Linked DNA regions of Homo sapiens: all the other regions are linked to region 2. The links come from fine-mapping of genetic effects on plasma protein levels. A gene starts in region 2. Each other region holds a variant in brackets. All regions are shown on one strand. Distances are from middle to middle.

Region 1 (2,853 bases), 560 kb after region 2:
GTTAGTTTGCTTTGTCTCTCTAATTATGGGAGACAGTGATTGACTTTGTGACTTCAATTATCAGATAGATATAAAAGGAATTGATGATTTTCAATTTGTTCAGTTTCCTTTATCTTCTTGTAGAGATGGAAGTGATAACTTTTGGAGCCCTTAGATGCCAGACTGGAAACTGGAAGTTACCCTAAGCCATTTTTATCTTAACTTCATTTTTATTTCATCTTGTAATCATGAATGATGGATGTACAATTTTATCTAAAAATTTTATTTAAATGAACTCTTCTAAGAGCAACTAGTATGATAATTTTTTCCTCAAACATCTTTTGTCTTATTTTATCTTTTGAAGAAATACATATAGGTAACATTCACCAGGCTGGAATGCAGTGGCGTAGTCTCGGCTCACTGCAACCTCTGCTTCCTGGGTTCAAGCAATTCTCCTGCCTCAGCCTCCCGAGTTGCTAGGACTACAGCCACATGCCACCAAGCCCAGCTAATTTTTGTATTTTTAGTAGGGACGAGGTTTCACCATGTTGGCCAGGATGGTCTTGATCTCTTGACCTTGTATTCCGCCTGCCTCGGCTTCTCAAAGTGCTGGATTACAGGCATGAGCCACGGCACCCAGTTGATGATAAGTATGTTATATTGAATTTGTCTACATGCTGTGTCTTTAGAATGCTGAGCAACTATGCATAACTCAGTCGTCTTTAATCTCCAAAATTTCAAATATTTCTAAGGCAAAATATTCATAGTTCAATACTCAATTCCAAATACTTCCACTTAAATATATATTTAGAGACATAGATATAAAGGCATTGCTATTATTGATTTTTATAATCCACTAGAGTTTAAAACTGAGATTCTAATTAAGTTGGTTGTTGGACTCTAACTCAAGTGTTGGCAAACTAAGACCAGGAAGTCAGATTTAACCCATCACTTGTTTTTATAAATAAAGTTGTATTGTTTCACAAACAAAAATTTATCTACATATTATCTATGGCTGCATTCACATTACAGTAGTAGAGTTGAGTAATTGCCATAGAGCCTGCATGTCCTATAAAACTTAAGACATTTACTCTCTTACCCTTTACAGAAAAAAAGATTACCAACTTACTTGAAGATATAGAGAAGATTTTGAGTTTTTTCAGTGTACATATATTTAATAAGCTAAACACTCTATGGGGTGAATTTGCATTAGTTTTGTGGGTTTTTTTAAAACCT[G/A]TATTTGTTATAGGCCATCTATATTTCTATGGCTATAAGGTGGTAATTTAAAAGGAAGAAAATTTGATATTTATATACTTCATTGAAAAATTTACAAATATAGAGTATAGAAATGGCAATTTTTTTTAGTTACTATTCCCTTTTATTAAGTCTTCATTCTGAATTTTAAACTTTTCATGTTGCCTCTGCTACCTCTTCTTGTTACTTATAATTTACTTGTCTCCTAGTCATTTCTATTTCATTCATTTGTGAGTTTAACATCCTGCTTAACATCTCCCCTCCCATTTCCCTATCACTATTCCTTGTGACTTCAACAATTGTAGATAATATTTGCCTTCATTGCATCTCCTCACTGACGACATTTTTACTTAGCAGCACCACCCAGTCCATTTCCGTATTATATCATTAACCTCATCACCAACAACAAAACTGCATCACCACTTCTTTTTCTCATTGTCAGTTGCCCTGTTGTGCTGTCAAACCCTCCCTGGCCAGCCTGGATTTCATGGTACATTGCTATAATTTATCTTTTGCAGACATTCTTGGTTCTCTCACTTCTTTCTCCGGTTAAATTACTTTGACAGAAAATCAAAGATTGCAGGCTTCATCTAGCTCCTATTCTGCCTGAGAACATGACAAGATAGTGCTAAAGAGTCTAACTCAAATTCATGATCACAGAATTCAAATGGATATTTGGAATCTTTCAAATATGACCAAGCAATCTGGTCATATTTTCTTACTATATTTCTTACTCCCTATTTTCTATTTTCTTGTTATAAAAATAAACTGTTCTAGTTCCTACCAAACATCCTACCAAAGATCCACCTCTACTTGAGTACTAGATCTCATCTGGTCTTACTTCTCAAATATTAAATTATTGCCAGTTATCTCTTCTTTCCCCTGCATAAGCGTATCTCTATTTTTACTGTTTTAGTTATATCAGCATAAAATCATGTGTTCTTTTAAAACTAAACTGTCTCCTGACCCCTTGATGCCACATAGGTTTCTAGATATTGTCTCGTCTCTCTACTAGACTAACAAGAATAACAAGATAATGTGTATTTGTTGAAAGAATTTTCTACAGACACTATCATAATTTCCTTACTTCATGTTCTCTTCTCAATTCTCTCTAGTCAGGCTCTGACCTTACTTCTGTGTTGTCAAATCCAATGTTCACTTCTCTGTTTATATCTCACCCAGCTGATTTTCAGTATTTGACACTGTTGACCATACCTCCCATCTTGAACTCTTTTTTCCCTGGGCTTCTAAGAAAACAAAATGCTCAGTATTTCCTTCTATAAAATATTTCACCATCTACTTTCTTTCTTTCTTTTTTTTTTTTCTTCCTGGCTCGTCTTTCTTTTTTTCTCATCTACAAAATATTGCATCACTTGCTCCCAGGCCCTTTGATCTTGTTCTCTCTACCTACTCTTTTTATTATCTCAGCTCTTTCATGGCTTCAAATACACCTATATGTCAATGACTCTAAAATATGTTTCTTAGCCCTGATTTTTCTCCATTACCCCAGACGTATATCAAACGGTGCCTTTGACATCACCATTTGGATGTTAAATTTACATTTCCAACTTAACATGTCCAAAATAGAACTGTCACAACCATGATTCTCAAACTCCAAAT
Region 2 (2,588 bases):
TTTTTAAGTCTACTTTATGAATGCAAGATATTTTTATATTTTTGTATTTTATATATTTTATATTATTTATATTTTTTGTATTTTATATTTTGAACTGCAAACAAGGCACAAACCTGCAGGTCTTGTCTATGTCCTCCAAATCACAGGCACTGCCAAGAGCATAGTGATTGTTGGGATTTAAAGGAATAAATTTCGTTTTTTGGCTTTATTGGTATACTTGGACAATAAAAGTCATGTGAACAATGTCAAATGTAAAGTTTAAAATAAATCATTCTTGTTCATGGAGATTAGTTTTGTTTTTTAGATCTTTTTACATTTTAATCTCCCCAAAATCACATATTTAGATATGAACATTTTGCCAAAAGAGGGCAGTATTCGCCTACAGTAGAATGTAAAGGGACTGAAACATTTCTGCAGAGACAAGGATGAACTTATTTTCCTCTTAAGATTGGTCTACTAGTCTGATCATCTGGGATTGACCATGCAAGTTTTAATTTGTTTTCTATTACTTTTATGGATTTAAAACATTTTTGTTTGAAAATGTTAGTCTTTAAAGATAAAGCCAAAAATCTGTTTAAAAATACCTGCTTACAGAATGACCAAAAAGTAGATGTTTTCATATTTATTAAGTTTTCAGACACGTCCTCAACGAGGTGCTGCTCACTTCAGGGAAAGATGGCCAGTTCAAACTGCTGATGAAAAGTCTGCAACCAGCAAGACCACTGCTGCCAGTGTGTCCTGAGGGAGCTTGCATCTGTTTGACTTTACATATACATACTTAGGTTTGTCCATCAGTTGTATCCTCTTGAAGGAGGTATGTGAGTTCATGGTTTTAAGCATATAAATTTAAACGTTAAAAGAAGAAATCAGAAGTAGCCCGTTTGAGTCTTACATGAGTGAAATGTGTTGGGTTTCAGCAGCAGAATATATAGAAGGAAATGAAACAATTTTTATTAAAGAGCATAGTTTGGAATAAAGAAAGAATATGTGCACCTAGATGAACGAATTAGAACTCTGCCTGCCCTTTAGGGTTTGGTAATGTTACCAGATAAAAAAGAAGAAAAGCTGTTCTGCATTGTTTCAATACATTCTTAATCAACTTGGGCTTCAAGAGGACAGCTGGAGGCTAAGAGGTCGGGTTTTTCATCAAATGCGCAGTGGAAGTAATTTTGGAAAAGTTTGTTTGCATTATGCTGCCTAAAACACGGTGTTTTAGAAAGAGGCTTTTGCATTGAAAAGCTTCTCGTCCTCGCCTCTGGGAGTCTAGTGCTTCCTAGAGCTGCTTGTGCCCTCAGCCCTGTAATGTGATATCCCTCCTCCTGGATTGGTCAGAGGGGTGTCCTTTCCCTGGGAGCTGCTTTCCACCACGGCTCCCAAACTTGGCTCAGTCCAGCAGCCACCATCACCACCACTGCGGTTGCTGCTGCAGCTGCAGCTGCTGCTCTCCCTCCGGCTGCTTCTTCGCGTGGCCAGCAGCGAATGGAGCGATGGAGCCCAGACTGTTCTGCTGGACCACTCTCTTTCTCCTGGCCGGGTGGTGCCTGCCAGGGTTGCCCTGCCCCAGCCGGTGCCTTTGCTTTAAGAGCACCGTCCGCTGCATGCACTTGATGCTGGACCACATTCCTCAGGTACCACAGCAGACCACAGTTCTGTAAGTTCACATAAATTCCCCAGAAACCCTCTTCCCCAATGCTTCATTGCTTCTCTGCTAGGACCTGTGTCCTTTTAATTTACGATTCCTAATGCTCTCCCTGCTTGTATACTTAGAAGAGGCTTTTCACTTTTCAAACAATTTCATGGTTCTGCTCTGTTAGACTAGAAAATGTAAGCAATGATGAGTTGACATAAATATATTTGTTTTGGATTCAGTTCTCTTCCAGCATCTTCCAGAACTTAGCATTGAGAATTCTCGTCTTCATTCTTCCTTCAATAATTTTCCTGCATACTTTCTCAATTTATTCCTATTCATCCTCTACTCCCAAGTCTTTGGGCCTCTTAATTGGTCAGCACGTGTCTGCCCCATTTGGAAGGAACTAATTTAACTTTAGAGTGTGGTTTCAATTGATTATGTGCTGACAAATTGTTAGGCTTTGTACTGTGTGTACCTCCTGGGAGGGTGAAGTCCTGAGCCCTCAGCACTTGAAGCACTGTCTGTCTCCAGAACAGACCCTCAAATGGTCCAGTAGAGTTCTTGAATGCTTAAAAGCCTTGTGGAGCAGCCGCTTAGACTAATCGGCATCTAGGAGGCATTACGGGATAGTAGGGCAAACCAGAATTTGGAAGTCAAACAGGTCTGAGTTCAAATCCTATCTTCTCATCTTTAATATTCAGATAATAAACCCAAACATTTAGATTTATTTAGATTAAATTAAGTCATAATTAGATAATTAGAAGGGCAAATCACCACAAAAGAAGAAAAGGATCTGTTTCTAGGGTCTATTTTTAAAGAAAGAAAAAGACGACAAATTCAAAAATTTAAGAAAAAATAAAAGAAGAAAAGGAAAAATGCTGAAAGATGCAGACTAAAGAGGTTTCCTGCTCTATAATAAATATTTTGTGGGTTGTGTCATGTTCATGGAAGACAAAAC
Region 3 (2,853 bases), 530 kb after region 2:
AGCCTTTATTTATTTTTGTTTGCTTTTTTTCTTTTAAGTTTATGTAGAGACCAACAAAAGTTTGGAGACATTGGAGACCCCACGGAGAGAGGAAGAGAGTGAAGATAAGAAATTAGGAGGTGACAGATATCTTGGCAAGGTTGCTGAAATGGCAAACACACAAAAGGAATTCTTAGTTCAGTAGAGGAAAATAAAGAGCTCCCTTTTTGAGCTTCAAATTAAGAATGAGAGAATGCCAGGAGGTATAAAGTTTCTATCAACTTATTAATAATAATCATATTTCCAATATGTTCACAAATCTCCAAAAGAATTAAAAGCTGCCTTTTAGGTAAAGGCTCTGGTGGATTTCTTAGACTTCCCAGCCAGGGAAACTGGTAATTTTCTGAGTCAGGTGAAACCTCCTCCAGGTGGAGGCAGGTGACTACCACTCAGCCCCTACGCAGCAGCTCTTGTCAGTGTCATGCACCCAGGCAGTCCTCTTCAATGCCATAGGATCTGTCGGTGATGGCTCACCTTGGATCTCTTTCAGGAGATCCACAGTTGGCCAGTAGAAAGCACACCCTGTGCCCTGCCATAGGGAGAACGCAACCCCTTCCAGTCATAGCCCTCTCTGTTCACTGTCTGAGCTCCACCTAGAGTCGTCTCCATGTGCGTCTTAAGTCCCTGTGTCCCACACAGGCCATGGGAGAAGTGGTTTTTGAGCCCCTCTCCTGTGACATTTATGCAGAGTGTGTGAGAACAGAACTCCAGCATTTTTTGTTGCCATAGCAGTCCCCCTTTTTATCTGTAACTTCTTACTGAATTCCCAACTTTGCTCTCCCTAGGCAGGAATGGATGGTGGACTAGTGACAGCAAAGCTGGATTCATGTTGTGGCCTGCTTGGCACAGAGCCTGCACCTGGTCAGTCCCTGGACACTCTTCATGGCCAACAGCATCGAGCCCCAGAGAAAGTCCTGACATTTTGTTCTTGTTGAGCAAGAGGCAACCTTCTGAAACATCAGTTTGAGAGACCCAAGTTCTCAATAATAACATATCTTAAGTAGCAAATGTTCTAGTTGATGTTGCCTTATCCTCAGAGTAAGTGTTACAGATAGGCCAGAATATCTTTGCATCCTTGAGAAGATAGCTATAAAAAAGTCTGGGAGTTGATTGTTCTCTGCAGCTAAGGCATCTAGATATTATTAGTGACTCAATTATCATCTACTCTATCTCTTCTCTAAAATGTTTTCAAGTTCAAAAGAAAAAAATATTTTTTTCTTACCGTCAAAGGCAGTTTTGCTCACTTTTCCAAGAGAAGGTATAACAATAAAAGCCAAGTCATTGTTGATCATTTATTTTTTTTTTTTTTGAGACAGTGTTTTGCTCTTGTCACCCAGGCTAGAGTGCAATGGTGCAATCTTTGCTCACTGCAACCTCTGCCTCCCGGGTTCAAGCAAGTCTCCTGACTCAGCTTCCTGAGTAGCTGGGACTACAGGCATATGCCACCACACC[T/A]GGAAAATTTTTGTATTTTTAGTAGAGACGGGGTTTCGCCATGTTGGCCAAGCTAGTCTCTAACTCCTGACTTCAGGTGATCCGCCCGCCTTGGCCTCCCAAAGTGCTGGGATTACAGGCATGAGCCACTGTGCTTGGCCTGATCATTTAAAATTCTTAAGATGCTAGAAATTCAGGTATATTTATCAAAAATATTATAATATGAACATTTAAAAAGAGTTCTAAAAACTTTGATAAAGAAACTTAGCAGTAAGTTTAATTTCATTACAAAGTATACAAATAGATAAATTTCAAACATTTTAGGTTTATTTAAAAAATATTGACACTGTCTAAGGGAGAATCAACACCAAAGTGTTGGCTACATTTCAAACACAATTTTAAAAAACATTCTTATATGAAAGTTTACTTAGCATGCTTAACTGTTTCTGAATATTCATCTAGATTCTCTGAAGAACACTAATTTTTAAAAAATCTCTCAATGAAATTAGTGCTGCAGCTCTTGGTCTTTGCAAACTCTAAAAGCCTAGTTAAAAGCATATAAGCCATATGTAAGCTTCACTCTTAATTATTTTGCTTATTATTTTAATGTTTATTGTACAGTCATTAATTTGAAATTTTAGAATTTGGCAGCTGCAACACATGCAGCATTAAGGCTTTTAATAGCACATTCCGTTTTGCTTCTCATGAAAATTGAGAAGTCAGATATTATTATCCGTTTCCTGAAATATATGAGACATACTGTTTATTTGTGCCTAGAGCCAATGAGTAATTTTTAGCATTTTCAAAATTTAATATACTCCAAAATATTCTTAGAAATGTTTAATTAAATTGAATTAGATTTGGCATCTGTTTTTATTGAGCACTATAGAAACCATAACTCGCTAAGGTGGCGTTTAACAAGTCTGTTAATTCTCTTTACTCATGACACTATACATATTTGCAAGTAATAAATGCTTTTTTATTATTCCTTAATTCATTATGTGATAATTTATTGAGTGATTCATATTAAAAATAATTGTAATATAAAAATGATTAAATATGCTCACAAATCGTGATTTATTATACATACATTCAACCATTTACTCTAAGAAGCACCTTCAAATAGTAGGAAATGTGGAAAATCATTCCATTTTTGTAAAGTTGCTTTTCTAAGTATATTTTGGTGAAAAATTTTAAACTTTCATTTGCATTTAGTTTTATGTAATTGATAGAATGATGATGGAATTTATTGGTTTTGTTTAGTGACATAGTAAAAAAGGTTATCATGGGACAGTGGATTCTTTATGGAACTTAGAAGCTAATCAGTCAAGAAAGGAGAGCTGGTATCTACATAAATAATCTGCACAAATATTTTTTCTTAAA

Which allele goes with the higher level. Alleles are on the strand shown, and positions count from the first base shown. The strength of an association depends on the size of the effect and on how common the allele is.
For the plasma level of the protein whose gene starts at base 1,387 in region 2, allele G in region 1 goes with a higher level than allele A (moderate association).
For the plasma level of the protein whose gene starts at base 1,387 in region 2, A is the low allele of the variant in region 3 and T is the other (weak association).

The links. PIP is the posterior inclusion probability: the model's chance that the variant is causal. The UK Biobank Pharma Proteomics Project read protein levels with antibody pairs (Olink). The fine-mapping took linkage between variants from a reference panel, not from the people measured, so its PIPs are less certain.
Region 1: its variant is fine-mapped to the plasma level of the PXDNL protein (UK Biobank, PIP above 0.99).
Region 3: its variant is fine-mapped to the plasma level of the PXDNL protein (UK Biobank, PIP above 0.99).

Annotation. Positions count from the first base shown.
Region 1 is chr8:51,243,324-51,246,176 of GRCh38, reverse strand. No RefSeq gene overlaps it. Among named protein-coding and RNA genes, the nearest start is that of PXDNL, 560 kb to the left of the region's middle. The variant G/A (reference allele first, on the strand shown) is at 1,216.
Region 2 is chr8:51,808,244-51,810,831 of GRCh38, reverse strand. PXDNL (peroxidasin like) reads left to right here and starts at 1,387. Exons shown (of 23, transcript NM_144651.5): 1 at 1,387-1,651. The coding sequence starts at 1,488. RefSeq lists enhancers at 970-1,491, 1,492-2,014.
Region 3 is chr8:51,279,415-51,282,267 of GRCh38, reverse strand. No RefSeq gene overlaps it. Among named protein-coding and RNA genes, the nearest start is that of PXDNL, 530 kb to the left of the region's middle. The variant T/A (reference allele first, on the strand shown) is at 1,492.